Linked DNA regions of Homo sapiens: region 1 is linked to region 2. Evidence: fine-mapped expression QTL. A gene starts in region 2. The other region holds a variant in brackets. All regions are shown on one strand. Distances are from middle to middle.

What was found. PIP is the estimated chance that this variant, and not a neighbour inherited with it, causes the effect. A credible set is the group of variants that fine-mapping cannot tell apart.
Region 1: its variant is the best candidate, but not a certain one, in a credible set for the expression of FMNL2 in skeletal muscle (GTEx, PIP 0.61).

The regions. Positions count from the first base shown.
Region 1 is chr2:152,592,658-152,597,051 of GRCh38, forward strand. All of the region lies in intron 9 of FMNL2 (formin like 2), which reads left to right. Among named protein-coding and RNA genes, the nearest start is that of PRPF40A, 120 kb to the right of the region's middle. The variant C/T (reference allele first, on the strand shown) is at 2,323.
Region 2 is chr2:152,333,073-152,337,466 of GRCh38, forward strand. It overlaps FMNL2 (formin like 2), which reads left to right and starts at 2,102. Exons shown (of 26, transcript NM_052905.4): 1 at 2,102-2,648. The coding sequence starts at 2,532. RefSeq lists silencers at 1,902-2,551, 3,062-3,161.

The DNA of each region.
Region 1 (4,394 bases), 260 kb after region 2:
CAGACTAGTATATATTATTTTGTTAATTCTTAGATGCACCATCTGAGGTAGGAACATAGAGGGAGAGCTCAGAGCAAATGGGCCTACTGACGTCTCTAGTAAATGGCAACTCTGGGATTTTTACACAGATCCATTTAACTCAGAGTTCATATACAGCCTTACATAACATGTCTCACATTCCAGGCACTTTCCACACATGTTCGTATATTGTCCTCAATTTTCCACCGAAAAGCAAACCTAATGGGAATGGTTAGAGATTGGATAGATTATTGGGGTGTTTAAAATTACTGGTAAAATTCAGAACAGACCATACTGTTTGTACAGGGCCCAGTGGGAGAAGTGGGTAGGTCCTGAGCAGGGTGATCAGGAAGGGAAGAGACCTGATTTGATGGAGAGAATTCTGGGAGCAGAGAGATTGGCATGAAATCTGTCTCAAAGGCAGCATAAGTCAGAATATATTTGTTCTTTAACCAGGAAAAATATCTGACCAGGGTCCATGTTACAGAACAAAACATGGCAAGAGGCAGGCATGAATGAGGTTCTGAGGAAACAGTGGTGGAGAGACTGGAAACCTGTGATTAAAACAAACAAACAAACAAACAAACACCTCAACTAGAAGATAGATACAAATAGAAGGGAAAAAAGAGAAAGGGAAGAAATTCACAGTTACATAATACTTTACAGTTTAGAAAATGCTATATATATATATTGCATTTGATTCTGTGGAAATCTGCAAAAAGCCTTTTATGTAATTTGGATAAAACTTTAGGAGTATTGTGTAGCTCTGCAGAAAATACAGTAGAGGGGAGAGATGCTGGAGTCTGGAAGACAGGTGGTTCAGTTGTCAAATGACTCAGCCTTGGACCCAGTTTGTGGCCATGGCAATGAATATGAAGCCAAAAAATGAAAGAAAAGGCAATAAGAGATAGGGTGATCCACCGAATATGAGAATGGACACGAGGAGAATAAGAATCTGTTCAAATAATATACACTTAATGAAGAGGAAAGTAGCCCAACTATAGTCAACAAATACAATCTGGGGATTTCTTTTTTCAGGCAAAGAAAATAAAACTTTTTTTTTAATTTATTTTTTTAGTGGGGGTGTAATGCCCGAGGTCAGATTCTTAGCTGTGCAATGAAGGTAATGAATGAGAGAACAAGTTTAAACAGAGGTGACTAGGGAGAGAGAGAGAGAGAGAGAGAGTGTGTGTGTGTGTGTGTGTGTGTGTGTGTGTGTGTGTGTGTGAGAGAGAGAGAGAGAGAGAGAGAGCGAGAGAGAGCCAAATGGGGATTGTAACTAAGTAACTAAGGAGGAAAACTCCCCCACAGGGACCCCAGTCCAGAAGGAAAAGAGTGAAGAGACAAGGTTAGAATGGGCTAGAAGGATGCTCAGAAGAGACCAGCACAGTACAAAGGGGAAGGTGGTCAAGAGGATGAGAGGATTCCTGGTGGGTCTGGTATATTGTGATGTAAGTTTTTGCTTTAGGTGAGAAGTTAGTCAAGTGGTTTTTATATATCTTCCAAGTCTACAATTTTATGATTCTATATAAAACTTTGTGTACACATGCCTATGTATGTAACATGTATTGTGTGTACCTATTCAAATAGTTCCCTCTAAGAAAGATTAAGTGCTTCTTTGACTGCAGATATGAAAACAAGGTACCTAGATAATAAAATGATAGGTGCTTTCATTTTTCAAACAAGAACAAAAACTGACATGTTTGAGGCCAGTTGGCAGGAGAGCAACAATCCTAAAAGAGATCACTATGACTGCAGACAGTATTGTGACTTCCGGCCTAAGTTCCCTTTTATGACTACTTGGAAGGTGGCTGCGTCAATCCCTTGGCTCAAGTTTCATTTCAAAAATCTGCCATGTGTCTAAGGACGTCGCTGTTTCCCTAGACTGAGAGTGAGCTGGCTGTGCTGGCCATGCTGTTAGTACCACCGCACGAGGTACTGTTGAGGACTTGTCTGTGGAAGAAGCATCCCTGGCTTGTGTAGCTTTTGAAAGATGGAGCTTTTGAGTCTTGATTTAAGCTTTTAGTTTCCCAGCTCCCCTGTCCTACCCCAAACTGTTCTGCCCACTGCAGCTCAACAGCCATTCTTTATTCCTTTCAACACAGTGGTATATGTGGCTACTGCCCAGCTCTTTAATTCTATGTATCAGTCTGCCAAGAATATATAGTCAGACTCGGTTTTCATTCACAATTGACTGAAACACACTCACTAGAAGAAAATAGCCCAGTGGTTCCTACTTATGGTCCAACAGTCACTGTCAGTCACCCTTCATCTTGCAGTTGAGCTCTCTGACAAGATGTTCCC[C/T]GCAAACTCTGCGTCACAGGGGAGTGGAAATGGCCAGTCATGGTAACATGAGCTTTAGGCTCTGTGTTGTTTTGGCAGTTTGGTTTTGGCAGTGGAAAATAAGGGCTCCTTCCCTGCCAATAACTGTACTAGCAACACATGTGATATCCCAGATTTACTGGTTCACCACCAAGAACAACACTGAATTTTTCATTTCATTTTCAACTATTTTCCAGGAATAGATGTAAAATTAGTAAATGGTGCTTTCTATGTGGAACGTGTCAAGAACATGTTTAGCACATTGGTAAAAGATAATGATCTTTTTGTTCCTTGTGTATTTGTTCATGATTGATTGATTGATTTGATTGTTGTTGCTTTTGAGGCAGAGTCTTGCTCTTGTCACCTAGGCTGGAGTGCAGTGGCGCAATCTCGGCTCACTGCAACCTCCACCTCCCGAGTTCAGGCAGTTCTCATGCCTCAGGCTCCTGAGTAGTTGGGACTACAGACACGCCACCACGCCCAGCTAATTTTTGTATTTTTAGTAGAGACGGGGTTTTGCCATGTTGGCCAGGCTGGTCTCGAACTCCTGACCTCAAGTGATCTGCCTGCCTTGGCCTCCCAAAGTGCTAAGATTACAGGCATGAGCCACCATGCCCGGCCCATGATTGTTTGATATTATGGTGTCAGGCGTCCCAGACAAATTTGTTTACTTGGGTGGATTCATTCAGTATGAATTTCTGAACTTTGAGGAATGTGTGTTCTATATATTTTTTTTCCCATGCGGAGGAGATCTCTTTCTGTCCCTTTCCCATATTCTTGCTTGAAATCTAACATTCACCTGGCTTTGGGAAAAGAACATCTTCTAGCCTTATAATGAGTCTAATGTGACAGAGTGGGTACATCCCAGAGATAATCAGAGAACAGTTAGGGGCTGTTTCCATCCAACCTGATAAGTACCAGGGATTGTACCTGGCCTTATTAAACAGAAGAATTGCAAGGAAGTCTTTTTTTTTTTTTTTTTTTAGACCAAGTCTCACTCTGCTGCCCAATCTGGAGTGCAGTGGCACCATCTCGGCTCACTGCAACCTCCTCCTCTCAGGTTTAAGCGATTCTCCCGCCTCTGCCTCCAGAACGGCTGGGATTATAGGCATGTGCCACAACGCCTGGGTGATTTTTTTTTTTTTAGTAGAGATGGGGTTTTGCCATATTGGCCAGGCTGGTCTTGAACTCCTGACCTCAAGTGATCCGCCCACCTCGGCCTCCCGCAGTGCTGAAATTACAGGCATGAGCCACTGAGCCCGGCTGTCTTTTTTTTCTACCTTGGAAAATGGTGGAGGGCTCCTTTCTATATGAAGACACTATTGGTCTCTGTGTGATGTGGCTTCATTTTTATGCAGAGATGGTACATTTAGTAGTTCTTTGTATGGTATGGTTGATTCCCAAACAATCTTGCAAGGAATTTTACTATTAGTTATCCATTTATTTGCTTCTTTAGATTTTAGGTTTAAGAATCCATCATCTTTGTAGAAATAGAGGCTATTCTGTAATCCAGTAGTTTCCAACTTTTGGCCCCTGGAGCCCTTTTTATGCTCTTAAAAATCACTGAGGTCCCTAAAGAGCTTTTGTTTATGCAAGTTATATGTTGATATTTTCCATATTAGAAATTACAACAAAATTTCAGGCCAGGCATGGTGGCTCACGTTTGTAATCTCAGCACTTAGGGAGATTGACTCGTAGAAGATAGCTGCATTCTTAGATCTGCTTCTGCGTTTAGTCACTTCTGCTGTTGTTTTTGTTGAAGTAGATGAAGAAAATTTAGCCTCACACAGATATGTAGATGAAATAGAATTATGTCAACAGCATTTTCAGATAATAGTGGGCATTCTTCTTTGATACTATACAAACACTAGACAAGTAGTAATTTCTTAAAGGTTAGTCACAAAGTAGAATCCGAAATCGTATCGATGAACTTTTTCCATACTGTTGCATTAAAATCTATTTGCCTATATTGCACCTTGAATGAATTTATAAATTTGTAACAACATTCAGTGATCATTGGGAAAATAATGGTACACTGAGTTATCTAGATCTTC
Region 2 (4,394 bases):
GCTTGATTTTAATTCTGTGGGGAGGAAGAGTGCTACAATTAAGGTAATAGAAATGTCTTTTCTTTCCTTTCCCTCCATGCCGTCTCCCCGCAAAGAATTTCCTAAGATTTTGATGGATTCTTATAGAAATTGTACAAGCCTATGGAGTGTTTATTTCTCCTCTTAATAATCACAAATAACAACCAAATATTAGAGATTCCAAACATTGAAATGGCAGGAAAGTTCTTTTGGTTCATAGATTTGCACACTTTTTCCTTGGCTTCCCTCGAAGTGTGAGCTTATGAGAGAGACTAGATGTGATAAGACGTAAGGGGAGAAAAAGGTCTTGGTTACTGGCAGAAATATAGCCGCAGGGAGACATAAATGTAATCAAAAAGGCTTTCTCAACTGCAGAAAAGAATTCCAGCCTTTTTTATCCAGATGGGCAACCCTCTGGGTGGGCTGATTTTGTGAGTCAATCAGATCCAAAGTATATGTCTAGAGATTACAAGGAAATAAATACATTTGTGGGTCAGAAATGTTTCACCTGGTCCGAACTGCTTTCTTTCTCTCTCATTTTCATTAGTTTGGAGTGTGTGTGTATCTAAACCGCCCTGCTTTTCTCTCAGATCAGTAACACATTTGCTATTAACTTTGATACAACACTGCTTTAGAAATACAGGTTACAGTTATTCAGAATTTTAAGTTGAATTTATTTATACTGTCTCCATTCTTTAAAGACTAGAAGTGGTTTAATAGAACATACATGATGTATTTGTGTGTATTTGTGTCATATGCTTTTGGAAAAAGTCACTTGTCAATTCCACAAATAGTTCTTGGGCGTCTACTATGTTTAAAGTATCTTGAAGTTTATAAAGATGAATGAAATGTCCTTGATTGAATCTTGGTGTACTACCTTGTCCAGAAACACTTGCTATTTACTAAAAGGATAACAACCTTACCTGCATATCAAAATCACCTGGGGAGCTTGTTGAAAATACACCGGCCCAGGCTTCGGCTCTCAGCTTAGGGAGATTCTGATAATACGCAGAGCCCAAGGTGTGTGTAGTTTTAACAAAAAGCTTCCCAAGCGAATCTGATACACATCTAGGATTAAGAAACACTGCTTTAAACTAAGAAAGGACTAACTGCAGAAGTTCAGCCACAAGTCAACCAGATGTATGCCCTTAACATTCACATGAGCAGTTGGCTAAAGTCTCTTATAAGGCTATTTCTATTTCCGAGGTTTCAGAACGGGTAGTTATAGTCTGAAATACACCCCAGAGGACAGAGTCAGGTCCAATCTTTTCTGTAAGACACCTTGCTCAAGACTGCTGTGAAGGAATAAGAGAGCTGCAGCCAAAGATCATCCCAAAGTCTCCCAGAACACTCTATCATTATATCCATCTCACATGAAATATGGGTGTGTACATTTTTTCCTTCACTAGATTGGCAAGTATTCCAGCGCAGGGCAAATCTCTTTTTTCTCCCACCAAGGAACACAATATCCCATACATAATAGGTGTTTGACAGGTTTTTTTTTTAAATTGAATTGAATCCTTACCTAGCTCCTAGGGTCTGACTATATATACCCATAAATTATACATCTGTTTATAAAACATTTCAATCACACCAAAGAACATATATATGGAAGAAAGAACGATAAACAAGCACCCATGGACCCACCCCCCCGTTTATGAAACAGAACTTTGCCAGTGCTTTCGAAGTTCCTTACTGAACTAGATCTTTTAAAAACAGCAACGATTTTCTGAATTTTAATCAGAAGGCATGCATTCCTTCATTCATTGATTCGATTCCGTCATGGTCAGACCCGCCTACCAAGTGTCAACATGATATACACGATGTAAGTATTCCACTGTTGGGGTGAGGAGGGTCAAAAGTGACAATATGCTATCTCCAGAGACTACGGATCGCCTTTGCTGCAAATGGTCCCAACCCGGCCTGGCGCTCTAGAGCAGGCGTGGTTTCTGCGCGCGGACACTTTGGAGAGAAACTACGCGTCCCGGCAGTCCGCGGGGCGAGTGGGCGGAGCCGGGCCGGGGGCGGGGGCCGGGCGCCGGGCGAGAGGTGGCATTGTGTAGGGGAGCGCGGAGCTGCATTTGTCTGCTCCAGGTGCTAGCCAGGCAGGCGCAGCCGTGGCCGGCTAGGGCTGGAAGTGTCAGCGGCGGCCGCGGGCCCGGCAGAAGGCCGAGTAGGAGGGACCACGCGCCGGGGGCCGCGATCTCTGGCAGGGGGCGGTGTGCCAGCGGAGCACCATGCACATAGGCGCCCAGCGCCCCAACTACCCCTCCCGAGGAAAAGAGGCCGGGGCCGCGCTGGGGCGGCGGAGAGCATGAGGGAGGCCGGGGGGCGGCTCGGCTTGGAGCGCTGCTAGGGAGCGGTGCGCGCCGCACACCCGCCTGGGCGCGGCGGAGGGCGGGGAGCCGGGCAGGTCGCGCCTGCGGGCGGCAGCCGACCGCCGGGAGCTGTTCTGATTTCCGACGCGCACGCTAGGGGCCCGGAGCAGCCCCCGGCCCCGGCGCGCCGCCGACATGGGCAACGCAGGGAGCATGGATTCGCAGCAGACCGATTTCAGGGCGCACAACGTGCCTTTGAAGCTGCCGATGCCAGAGCCAGGTGAACTGGAGGAGCGATTTGCCATCGTGCTGGTAAGTGCGCGGCGGCGGTCGGGCGCGGGGACCCGGGGCCCCGGGCCGGGCGGCGCAGCTGACCCCCGCCCCTCCCCTTCACCCCGTGCCGGGAGCGAGCCTCCATTCCCGAGGGGGAGGCTCCCGCTTTCCCCTTTGTGGCCCCCCAGCACTCCTCTTCACCCCCCTGGCAGTCCCCCGCGCTCAGTCTCTCGGGGTCCCGGGATGGGGATGGGGGCTCAGGGCCGGCTGCCCAACCAGCCTCGAACCCATTGTCTGGCTGGAGAGGCACCTCACGGCGCGTGTGCCCGGGAGGTGCGGCGTGGGCGTGAAGAGAAGGTGGCGCGGGCTGGGAGGAGGAGGTGGCGAGCCGCTTAGGCTTTTTTTTTAAAAAAAACAAAACAAAACAAAACAAAACAAAACACCCTGAGCCCCTGCGGACCATCCCTCGGGCGGCCAGCCCGGGACCTGCGAAGTCCCCGGCAGATGGGGCGCATGTGGCCGGCCGCGGGCGCCGCGCCGGGCGGTGAGCGGAGGCGAACTTGGAGGGCTCACGTCGCGGCTTGGCCAAGGGGAGCTTCCCCGAAAGGGAAAGCGGAGACCCACAGCAGTGCGGCGCCCCGGCCCTTGGCGAGGAGCAGGGGCATCTGAAACCCAGGCCGGGGAGAACCTCAGCGCGTTCCCTCTAGACTTAAATCTTAAACCACAAAAATGTGGAGTTTTGCGGGGACGTGTTGCGAGCTGTCCTGACTGCACGGGCGACCCCTCCCCTCCTCTTGCACGCCCAGCCAGGTCCCCCGCTCCCTCCTGCATTCCGCTTCTCCCAGCTTTCCAGCTCCTCAAATCCAGGACTCTGAAAACTCCCCTCTTTCTCCCTTTCCTGCTGGGACAGTGTCTGGGCCCCTCCCAGCCGAGGCTTGTGCTGTGAGCTGCAGAGGGTGTGGCGGCTTGCCCCAGCCAGGATCTGGACTGCTGTTGGTCCCCCAGACTACCAGTTTTAGTGTCCCAGCCTCTTCTAAGGGATGTTGGGAGGGACACACACAGGCGAGATTGGGCTCATTCCTACTCCTGACACTTGGACACTTCTCTTTTCCTAGTTGGTTACCTCTAAACTCCACAAGACTAGGCAGCAAGGGAAACTCGTGATCCGGGCAGCCAACGATTGTGCCTGCCTGCGGGTTTTCTTTTCTTCTTTTGTTTTCATGAAAACTTAGAACTTTGGCAGAGGACTCGAGTTCTAGATCAAAAATCGGTTTTCTGAGGTGTGCTCAGCTACAGGACGTTCAAATTGCCTGCCTTCAGGCCTTGAAAAAGGAATGGTTTGGTATGGGAAGTGATGTTCTGGATGGCAGGTTAGCTGTGTGCTCTTTGGGAGAACTGAGCTCTCTCTCCCGCCACCTGGAAACTCTGGTGTGGCCGTCGGGGAGACAGATGAGGTTGCTTGTGTTGCTTTGCATCTCCTGTGATCTCCCACAGCTGCTCCCACCGTTGTGCAAGATGGGACACTGAAATGAAACGGCCTAGGCATAACTCTCAAGGCGGCCTGGGTGCATACTTGACCTGCTTTTCCAGAGACAAACGTTTTTCTTCAAAACCCTCTTCCTACTAGACATATGGTTCTTACCTCCTGGCTCTGGCTTTTTTTCCTCCTGGCTCTGGCTTTTTTGTTTTTCCATCCATGCTGTGGTGCTCTGTGTGTGTGTGTGTGTGTGTGTGTGTGTGTGTCTGAATACTTGTGGTGGAGGAGCCAGTGACACAGGGAAACCA